Linked DNA regions of Homo sapiens: all the other regions are linked to region 1. The links come from fine-mapping of genetic effects on gene expression. A gene starts in region 1. Each other region holds a variant in brackets. All regions are shown on one strand. Distances are between the middles of the regions.

Region 1 (2,500 bases):
GGCCGAGGTGACACCGTGGGCTGCGGGCGCGGTGGAGCCCGGGGCGGACCTGGTGTCCGGGGCCGAGGTGACACCGTGGGCTGGGGGGGCGGTGGAGCCCGGGGCGGGCCTGGTGTCCGGGGCCGAGGTGACACCGTGGGCTGGGGGGGCGGTGGAGCCCGGGGCCGGCCTGGTGTCCGGGGCCGAGGTGACACCGTGGGCTTGGGGGGCGGTGGAGCCCGGGGCCGGCCTGGTGTCCGGGGCCGAGGTGACACCGTGGGCTGGGGGGGCGGTGGAGCCCGGGGCTGGCTTGTTGTCCGGGGCTGAGGTGACATCGTGGGCTGGCGGGGTGGTGGAGCCCAGGGCTGGCCTGGTGACTGGGACCGAGGTGACATCCTGTCCCCAGGTGGCAGCTGAACCTGAAGCTGGTTCCGTGGCCGGGGCCAGAGTGACATCCTGTCCCTGAGTGGTGGAGGAGCCTGAACCGGGGCTGTGGCTGGAGAGTACGCTGCTGGTCATACTCACAGCATTCTTCTCAGTAGAGCTGGGCACTGAACTTCTCTGGGTAGCCGAAGTCTCCTTTTCTCCACCTGGGGTAGAGCTTGCATGACCAGAACCCGTAACAACTGTTGCGGGTTTAGGGGCTGTGGTAGCTGTAAGAAGTTAAAGTCATAGGGTTGGGTCTTTATGAAGGAAAAATAAGAGCAAGAAGAAAATATAAGCTCTGGCCACCAGAGAAATAATACCAGGAGGACTGGGGAGTGGGCAGCCTCAGTAACCCCTGGGTTGGCCGCCTCCTTCCCTGCAGCAGCCTCCTTCTCTCTGCCCATAGGCCTTGGCTCATGGCCCCTGCATTTCTTCCCCTCTTAAGCCTTCCCTCTCCCTACTCTCTTCCCCCTAGACTTCTCTACAGGACATTTGCTTGCCCCTGGTACCCACTCTCAGGGTTGGGGGCAACTCTTCTCAGCCTGTCCTTAGCCTCTCCCTCCTTCTGGCACAGACAGGGCAGCCTCTGTCTGCAATTCTTACCTTAACTTCATGGTGCCATCTGCCAGGGAGCAAAACCCACAGAAAGACCACGAAGACCACCTAAGCAGGGCAGCCCACTCCCCACCTCGTGCCCCTCACCTGTAAGCACTGTGAGGAGCAGCAGCAGGAAGAAAGGAGACTGGGTGCCCGGTGTCATGGTGGTGGTGAAATGGGTGGGGAGGGGGCAGAACAGATTCAGGCAGGCGCTGGCTGCTTGAGAGGTGGAGCGGGCACAGGCGCCTACCGCTTTATACCGGTCCCCCCACTCCCCGCCCGCCCGCCCTAGGCACAGCCGGAGCAGGTGACAGGTGACAAAACCCCGCCCCCTCCCCTACCTCCTACCTCTTCCTCCTCCTCCCCAACCATTCCTGGGTAGGGTACAAGGGCTCTAATCGCTCAACCCCCTGACTACCCGTTTGTTCTCCAGCTGGCCTCCCCCTTTCACCAACCACTCCCTGGCTCCGGGGGAGGGGGGAGGGGCAGTCTGGAACTTGGGGCCCCTGGGCTCTAGTTTTAGCCTCAGGGCAACAACTAACGTGGGGATGGGGAACAAAGCCAGCTAGGTCGAGGTCCTGTACAGCAAGGTCGGGAAGCCCACCCCTAGGTCTCCCACTCCACTTCCCCGCCCTCCCCGGGTCCACTGAAGCAGAGCGGGGCCGAGAAATAAGAGGGCTGGATAATGAGTGGACTAGGTGCTAGTTTTGGGCTCCCTCCCCCCACCACTTCCCGGAATAGCCCCACCCTTCTAACCGCTCCCTGTCCCGTTCCACACGCAGTTCTACCCTGAAACCCACAGTCCCCGCCCCAGCCGGACTTTCCAGCAGCCTGGGTTCCCTCCTTGGAGAAAGCCAAGGAGGGAGTGGGGGAAGAAATTTCCACTTAAGGGAGTAAACCTGGGCTCCGATGAACCCTAGGGTCCTTCCTTGCCACTCTCCACCACTGGCCAGGAGCTCCTCCCGCCCTCTAGTGGTCACCGGGAGCCTTGCGGGGCTGGGCCGCGCAAGCTGAGGGGCCGCTCGGACCGGGCGGAGAGGAGTAAGGGCAGCGCTGCCTAAGTGAGGCAGCGAGAGCCCGCGAGAGGGAAGCAGGGCCCGGGAGAGAAGGGTCACTGCCGTGGCCAGGGAGGGAGGAACGCACAGCATGGTGGACGGCTGGGAGCTTTAGGAGGGGGCACTCCGGGACGCGTGGTGGTGGCGTCTGGAGGAAATGGAGCTAAGCGGGTGGGGTCCTGAGGTATGTGGAAGGGGCACCGAGGTATGTGGGAGAGGACGTTGGAACGTGGGCGGGGGAGTTGGACACGTTCTGTGTGGGCCGTTATGTACTTAAGAGGCAGATCGGGCGTGGCACGGTGGCTCACGCCCGTAATCCCAACACTTTGGAAGGCCGAGGCGAGTGGATCACAAGGTCAGGGGTTCAAGACCAGCCTGGCCAAGATGGTGAAACCTCGTCTCTACTAAAAACTACAAAAATTAGCCGAGCGTGGTGGCGGGCG
Region 2 (2,745 bases), 28 kb before region 1:
GTACATGTGCAGGATGTGCAGGTTTGTTACATAAGTAAATGTGTGCCGTGGTGGTTTGCTACACAGATCATCCCATCACCCAGGTACTAAGCCCAGTATCCATCAGCTATTCTTCCTGATGCTCTCCCTCCCCTACCCCTATCCCTCTGAAAGACCCCAGTGGTGTGGTTCCCACCATGTGTCCGTGTGTTCTCATCGTTCAGCTCCCACTTATAAGTGAGAGCATGTGGTGTTTGGTTTTCTGTCCCTGTGTTAGTTTGCTGAGGATAATGACTTCCAACTCCATCCATGTCCCTGCAAAGGACATGATCTCATTCCTTTTTATGGCTGCATAGTATTCCATGGTGTATATGTACCATGGTGTATATAGTATTCCATGGCGTATATAAACATAGTATTCCATGGTGTATATGTACCTCCATGGTGTATATTTTCTTTATCCAGTCTATCATTGATGGGCATGTAGGTTGATTCCATGTCATTGTTATTGTGAATAGTGCTGCAATGAATATACACGTGCATGTATCTTTATAACAGAATGACTTCTATTCGTTTGGGTATATATACCCAGTAATGGGATTGCTGAGTCAAATAGTATTTCTGCCTCTGGGTCTTTGAAGAATAACCACACTGTCTTCCACAATGGTTGAACCAATTTTCACTCCCACCAACAGAGTAAAAACGTTCCTTTTTCTCCGCAACCTTGCCTGCATCTGTTGTTTTTTGACTTTTTTTTTTTTTTTTTTTTTTTTTTTTTAGACAGAGTCTCGCTCTGTCACCCAGGCTGGAGTGCAGTGGCACGACCTCAGCTCACTGCAACCTCTGCCTCCTGAGTTCAAGCGATTCTCCTGCCTCAGCCTCCCGAGTAGCTGGGATTACAGGCGCACACCACCATGCCTGGCTAATTTTTTATTTTTAGTAGAGACAGGGTTTCACCATGTTGGTCAAGCTAATCTGGAACTCCTGACCTCAAGACATCCACCCGCCTTGGCCTCCCAAAGTGCTGGGATTACAGGCGTGACCCACTATGCCCGGACGTTTTTTGACTTTTTAATAGCCATTCTGAGTGGCAAGAGATGGTGTCATTGTGGTTTTGATTTGCATTTTTCTAATGATCAGTGATGTTAAGCTTTTTTTCATATGTTTTTTGGTCACATGTATGTCTTCTTTTGAGAAGTGTCTGTTCATGTCTTTTGCCCACTTTTGGAGGCTTTTTTTTTTTTTTTTGAGACAGAGTCTGGCTCTGTCATCCAGGCTGGAGTGC[G/T]GTGGCTCAATCTCGACTCACTGCAACCTCCACCTCCCGAGTTCAAGCGATTCTCCTGCCTCGGCCTCCTGAGTAGCTGGGATTACAGGCACGCACCACCACGCCTGGCTAATTTTTGTATTTTCAGTAGAGATAGGGTTTCACCATGTTGGTCAGGCTGGTCTCGAACTCCTGACCTCGTGATCCGCCTGCCTCAGCCTCCCCAAGTGCTGGGATTGCAGGCGTGAGACACCAAGCCCAGCCCCTTTGCCCATTTTTTAATAGGGTTGTTTGTTTTTTTCTTGTAAATTTGTTTAAGTTCCTGTCACAAGACTTTATAAAATAGGACCTGCAGTACCCTGTAAAGGAAAATTTTCTATAAATTCTGTAATGATCTTGTGGATAGCCAGGTGCAGTGGCTCACACCTGTAATCCCAGCACTTTGGGAGGCCGAGATGGGCTGATCACCTGAGGTCAGGAGTTCGAGACCAGCCTGGCCAACATGGTGAAACTCCATCTCTACTAAAAATGCAACAAAATTAGCCAGGCGTGGTGGCGCATGCCTATAATCCCAGCTACTTGGGAGACTTAGGCAGGAGAATCACTTGAACCCAGGAGGCAGATGAAGGTTGCGGTGAGCCGAGATAGTGCCATTGCACTCCAGCCTGGGCAACAAAAGCAAAACTCCGTCTCAAAAAAAATAAAAACAAAAATAAATCTTGTGGATAGCATAATTGTATTGTAATTTTGTGTGAAAAAGTGTTAATCTGGCTGGGTGCAGTGGCTCCCGCCTATAATCCCAGCACTTTGGGAGGCCTAGACAGGAAGATTACTTGGGGCCAGGAGTTTGAGACCAGCCTGGGAAAAACGCTCTTCCAAAAAAAAAATGTGTTAATTTATCAAACGTAAACGTGCCTGTTTTTCTCATTTCCAAGTGTATCTGAAACCTCCACAGACAGTAGGGACCTAGACTTCTCTCCATCTTTCAGAAGTCGTGTCTCCAAGGGAGCAGTTGCTGAGATCTGTGGGTCGTTTCCCACCCTGCCCCTGGCCCCCTGCAGAGGCTGGGGTGGGAACAGCTGGCTCTTCAAACCCTGCCCAAAGCTCTGAACTCTGCCTCCTGCCAGTGGTCAGGCCTCCTCCACCTGACCCTTCACCCGAGGTGATGGGATGCCTAACCATAAGGCCAGCTGGGGGGCTTCTCTCTCTGCCTCTGCAGGAACTCAACCAAATAGCATTTACAGAGCAACCTCTATGTGGCCAGCTGGCTTTCAGCCCTGGGGGTGGGAGGTGCGGGAGTGGCTTTGGGAACCTGATCCCGATCTCGGCACTGCCCCCTGAGAAACTTCCAGGCTGCTGGGAGAAAAGCAAAGAAAGGTACCTAAAGCAGAGCTATTAAGTGCCCCAACTGTGCCTATGTGAGAGTCCCACCATTGTTTGCTTGGGAGGCAGATCCTAGTAAGCCTAAGTCAAGGAGGAGTGCGCACAGGGCAGGCCAGCCC
Region 3 (2,745 bases), 97 kb before region 1:
ATTACACAATGCTTCTTTAACTTATAGTCTATCTCCATCAAGTAATATCACACCACTCAGCGCAAACACCTTCCTCCCATTCCCCACCTCTCCGCCTTTGTGCTATTGTCACCATGGATTTATTTCTACACATGCTATAAGCCCCACAATACATTATTAGATTTGCTCTAAACCCTCAAGTATCTTTTAAAGAGAATTTTAAAATCAGAAAAATATCTTTTCTATCTACCCACATATTTACCATTTCCAGCTCTCTTCATTCCTTTGTGTAGACGGAGATTTCCATCTGGTATCATTTTTCTTCTGCTTGAAGGACTTTTTAAAGCCGTTCTTCTAGTGCAGGTCTACTGATGATGAATTCTTTCAATTTTGGAATGTCTGAATGCATCTTTATTCCATCTTCCTATTTGAAAGATATCTCCACTGAATTCTAGGTTGACAGTTTTTATCTTTTCGTACTTTAAAGACATTACTCCACTGTCTTCAGGGTTGCATTGTTTCTGACGAGAAATCACTTCTATTTTTCCTTTTTACACAATGTGTTTTTTTCCTCTGGCAGCTCTTAAGATTTGTGTCTTTATCACTGGTGTTCAGCAGTGATTAAGGCAGATTATGATGTACCCTTGGTGTAGTTGTCTTCATATTTCTTCTGCTTAGGGTTTATTGAGCTTCTTCGACATAGGGATTTATAGTTTCCATCAAATTTGAAAATTATTGTTCCTTCAGATATTTTTTCTGTCATCTCTCCTGTGAATCTGTTAGACCCACGTTTCTGGTCTCCAAACAGGTATACAGGCTACTTGTTATTCCACAGCTCACTGATTTTCTGGATTTTGGTTTTGGAGGTTTTGTTTTTGTTTTTTGTTTTTTGTTTTTAAGTCTTTTTTTCCTCTCTGTGTTTCATCTTGGATAGTTTCTATTGCTAAGTCTTCAAAAACCTGTTTTCTACAGGGTCTAATCTGCTTTTATTTCCATCCAGTATACTTTTCATCTCAGATATTATACATTTCATCTTTAGAAGTTCAATTGAGGTCTTATTTTATATCTTCACACCTCTTTACATCGTGTTTATGTTTTTCCATATCTGTTTGAATATATGGATGGTATTTAATAATAGCTATTGGAGCTAAAGTCCTTGTCTACTAATTCTGTGACATTTCTGGGTCAGCTTTGTGTCATTATTTGCCTGTGTCTTTGCATGCCTGGTAATTATTGATTGGATGCCAGACATTGTATATTTTATGTTGTTTGGTGCTAGATTTTTTTGTATTCCTTTGAATATATTTGAGCC[T/C]CGTTCAGGGACTTAGTTAAGTTCCTTGGAAACAGATTGATCCTTTTAAGGTGTGCTTTTAGGTACCATTTGGCAAGAGGAGAATAGCCTTTGGTCTAAGGCTAATTTGCTCTCACCACTGAGGCAGTATCATCTGATGACTCTACTTGATGTCCCATGTATCAGTCAGTATCTAGTCAAGAGGCAGAAACCACACAGCAATTTGAACAGGGAAAGTTTAATGTAAAAAGAAAAAAAATTTTTTTTTGAGACAAGGTCTTGCTTTGTTACCCATGCCGGTATGCAGTGGTGCAATCATGGCTCACCATAGCTTCCACCTCCTGGGCTGAAGTGGTTCTCCAGCCTTAGCTTCCTGAGTAGCTGGGATCACAAGCGTGTGCTACCACACCTGGCTAATTTTTACATTTCTTTTGTAGAGACAGAGGGTCACCCTATGTTGCCTAGGCTGGTCTGGAACTCCTGGACTTAAGCAATCCTCCCACCTCAGCTTCCCAAAGTGCTGGAATCACAGGTGTGACCCACCACATGCAGTCTAATGTAAAAAGGTATTAACTTAACAAGGAATTGAGGTTAGAAGGGATTGGCTAGTAAGAAATAAACAGAACTCTAAATGAATACAGGAATAGGGGGCCAGATGCAGTGGCTCATGCCTGTAATCCCAGCACTTTAGGAGGCTGAGGCAGGTGGATCACCTGAGGTCAGGAGTTCAAGACCAGCCTGGGCAACATGGTGAAACCCTGTCTCTACAAAAATACAAAAATTAGCTGGGCATGATGGCGGGTGCCTGTAATCCCAGCTACTCAGGAGGCTGAGACAGGAGAATTGCTTGAACTGGGGAGGGCAGAGGTTGCATTGAGCCGAGATCCTGCCATTGCACTCCAGCCTGGGTGACAGAGCGAGACTCTGTCTCAAAAAAAAAAAAAAAAATCAGGAATAGCAGATACAAGAAGCGACTACTCTTCCTGGGTCTAAGGTGGAACACCCAAGAACAGCCCTCCCCATTCTGCCTGTTGTCCTATGTCTGGAATCACTGTTTCATATAGTCTGTCAGGTGTTTTAGTTGTTTAAAGCAGGTGGGGCCGGGTGCGGTGGCTCATGCCTGTAATCCCAGCACTTTGGGAGGCTGAGGTGGGTGGATCACTTGAGGTCAGGAGTTTGAGACCAGCCTGGCCAACATGGTGAAACCCTCTCTCTACTAAAAATACAAAAATTGGCCGGGCGCGGTGGCTCACGCCTGTAATTCCAGTGCTTTGGGAGGCCGAGGCGGGCGGATCACGAGGTCAGGAGATCGAGACCATCCTGGCTAACACAGTGAAACCCTGTCTCTATTAAAAATACAAAAAATTAGCCAGGCGCGGTGGCAGGCGCCTGTAGTCCCAGCTACTCGGGAGGCTGAGGCAGGAAAATGGCGTGAACCTGGGAGGTGGAGTTTGCAGTGAGCCAAGATCGTGCCA
Region 4 (2,745 bases), 32 kb before region 1:
CCCACAGTTCCATAGGGCAACAGGACAAAAGCACATGCAATTAACAAAAACACAGACAAACTTTTAAAAGGGGAGTAGTGGAGAAGGGGCTGGGTGAGTCAGGGTTTCCTAGAGAAGGTAAGCTACAAGAGACGAAGATGGGAAAATATGATAGCCTGAAGGTGGACAGACTCAGGAACAGGTCTGAGCAGCTGAGAAAAACATCTGGATCATTCTGAGGATTCAGCAATTTGGAGTTGATGCAGGGTAGAAGTTGAGTTTCAACAAAGGGCTCAAAGTACAAGAGTGGTGTGTTGCCAATGGGGTTCTTGGTTCTTCTTCTTTTTTTTTTTTTTTTGAGACAGAGTTTTGCTCTTGTTGCCCAGGCTGTAGTACAATGGCGCGATCTCGGCTCACCACAAACTCCACCTCCCAGGTTCAAGTGATTCTCCTGCCTCAGCCCCCCGAGTAGCTGGGATTATAGGCAAGTGCCAACACACCCAGCTAATTTTGTATTTTTAGTAGAGATGGGGTTTCTCCGTGTTGGTCAGTCTGGTCTTGATCTCCCAACCTCAGCTGATCTGCCCGCCTCAGCCTCCCAAAGTGCTGGGATTACAGACGTGAGCCACGGCACCTGGCCCTTGGTTCTTCTTTTAATAAACATTTGTTGAACACCTACTCTATGCCAAACAGCATTCTAGTGGACAAAATAGACAAATTCTCTGCCTTCAATGAACCTTATACTCTAGTGATGGGAGACAGACAAGACAAAAATAAACATTTAATATACCAACTAAACCTGCCCAGTGGCTCATACCTGTAATCCCAGCACTTTGGGAGCCCAAGGCAGGAGGATCACTTGAGGCCGGAGTTCAAGGTCAGCCTGGGCAACATAGACCTCATCTCTACTAAAAATAAAAATAACATATATTCACCAAGTAGTGAAAAGTACTATGAAGAAAAGTATAGCAAGGTAAGGGGCTAGAAGGTGACAGGCTGTACTGTGTCATATAGCACGATCAGAAAGGCCTGTCTGAGAAGGAGACATTTGCACAGAGACCTGAATGACATACAGAAGAGAGAAGTGTAGATATCTGCTGAGAAAGCGTTTCAGGCACAGGAACAGCAAGTGCAAAGGCCGCGAGGTGGAAACGTGCCTGGCACAGGGGACATGCAGGGTCTGGGGGCAGGATGGAGTGAGTGTGGGGAAGAGAGCAAGGAGGCGACATCAGAGAGGTGGCAGGAGCCAGATGGTGTGTTGTAACCATGCACTGTAGTCATGCTGGTTAAGCAACATGGTGGGCACAGATGGATCTGAATGTGAACTCCAATTCCGCCTTCATTTATCGGTTGTGTATAATCTTGAGCAGATTAGCCTTTCTTTCATTTAACCCCATTTCATTTTACTGAAACAGGGTGTATTAGTCAAGGGTTCTCCAGATGATCAGAACCAATAG[G/GGT]GTGTGTGTGTGTGTGTGTGTGTGTGTGTGTGTGATCCTGGTGCTGCCCCTCAGGAACTCTCTCTCTTTCCATGTGTATGTATATGGCAAGAGAAAGAGAGGGAGAGGCACAGTGGCTCACTCCTGTAATCTCAGCACTTTGGGAGGCCGAGGTGGGAGGATCACTTGAGCCCAGGAGTTTGAGACCAGCCTGGGTAACATAGCAAGACTCCGTCTCTACAAAAAAATAAAAAATAAAAAATTAGCTGGGCCTGGTGGTGCTTGCCTGTAGTCTCAGCTAGTCGGGAGGCTGAGATGAGAAGATCACTTGAGCTCAGAAGTGTGAGGCTGCATGACCTATAACAGTGCCACTGCATTCAAACCTAAGTGAGAGTGAGACCCCATCTCTGCCAAAAAAAAAAAAGGAATTGTTTCACACCATTATGGAGGCTGGTAAATCCAAGATCTGCAGGGTTGTGGGCAGACTGAAGACCCAGAGAAGAGTCAAGGTTCAGTTCAAGTCTCAATGCTACGTGCTTCTAAACTCCCTCTTGCTCAGGGAAGGTCAGTCGTTTGTTCTGTTTGAACCTTCAACTGACTGGATGAGACCCAATCACATCATGGATGGAGGGCAATCTGCTTTACCTAAACCCTACCAATTTAAATATTTAAATACTAATCTTTCACTCTCTCTCTCTCTTTTTTTTTTTTTTGAGACAGAGTCTTGCTCTGATGCCCAGGCTGGAGTGCAGTGACACAATCTCAGCTCGCTGCAACCTCCGCCTCCCCAGTTCAAGTGATTCTCCTGCCTCAGCCTCCCAAGTGGCTAGGATTACAGGCCTGCGACACCATGCCTGGCTAATTTTTTTTTTTTTTTTTTTGAGACGGAGTCTTGCTCTGTCACCCAGGCTGGAGTGCAGTGGTGCGGTCTTGGCTCATTGCAAGCTCCGCCTCCCAGGTTCATGCCATTCTCCTGCCTCAGCCTCCCGAGTAGCTGGAACTACAGGCACGTACCACCATGCCCAGCTAATTTTTTGTATTTTTAGTAGAGACGGGGTTTCACCATGTTAGCCAGGATGGTCTCGATCTCCTGACCTCGTGATACTCCCGCCTCGGCCTCTCAAAGTGCTGGGATTACGGGCATGAGCCACCACGCCCGGCCCATGCCTGGCTAATTTTTGTATTTTTAGTAGAGACAGGGTTTCACCATGTTGGCCAGGCTGGTCTCAAACTCCCGAATTCTGGTGATCCACCCGCCCACACCTCCCAAAGTGCTGGGATTATAGGCATGAGCCACCTCACTCAGCCTTAAATACTAATCTCATCCCAA

The links. PIP is the estimated chance that this variant, and not a neighbour inherited with it, causes the effect.
Region 2: its variant is fine-mapped to the expression of MUC1 in whole blood (TOPMed, PIP above 0.99). The same link has a PIP of 0.9 or more in subcutaneous fat.
Region 3: its variant is fine-mapped to the expression of MUC1 in whole blood (TOPMed, PIP 0.94).
Region 4: its variant is fine-mapped to the expression of MUC1 in transverse colon (CEDAR, PIP 0.95).

What each region holds. Positions count from the first base shown.
Region 1 is chr1:155,191,679-155,194,178 of GRCh38, forward strand. MUC1 (mucin 1, cell surface associated) reads right to left here and starts at 1,231. Exons shown (of 12, transcript NM_001371720.2): 1 at 1,108-1,231; 2 at 1-632. The coding sequence starts at 1,165.
Region 2 is chr1:155,163,655-155,166,399 of GRCh38, forward strand. No RefSeq gene overlaps it. Among named protein-coding and RNA genes, the nearest start is that of KRTCAP2, 8.3 kb to the right of the region's middle. The variant G/T (reference allele first, on the strand shown) is at 1,265.
Region 3 is chr1:155,094,783-155,097,527 of GRCh38, forward strand. No RefSeq gene overlaps it. Among named protein-coding and RNA genes, the nearest start is that of EFNA3, 17 kb to the left of the region's middle. The variant T/C (reference allele first, on the strand shown) is at 1,292.
Region 4 is chr1:155,159,154-155,161,898 of GRCh38, forward strand. No RefSeq gene overlaps it. Among named protein-coding and RNA genes, the nearest start is that of KRTCAP2, 13 kb to the right of the region's middle. The variant G/GGT (reference allele first, on the strand shown) is at 1,437.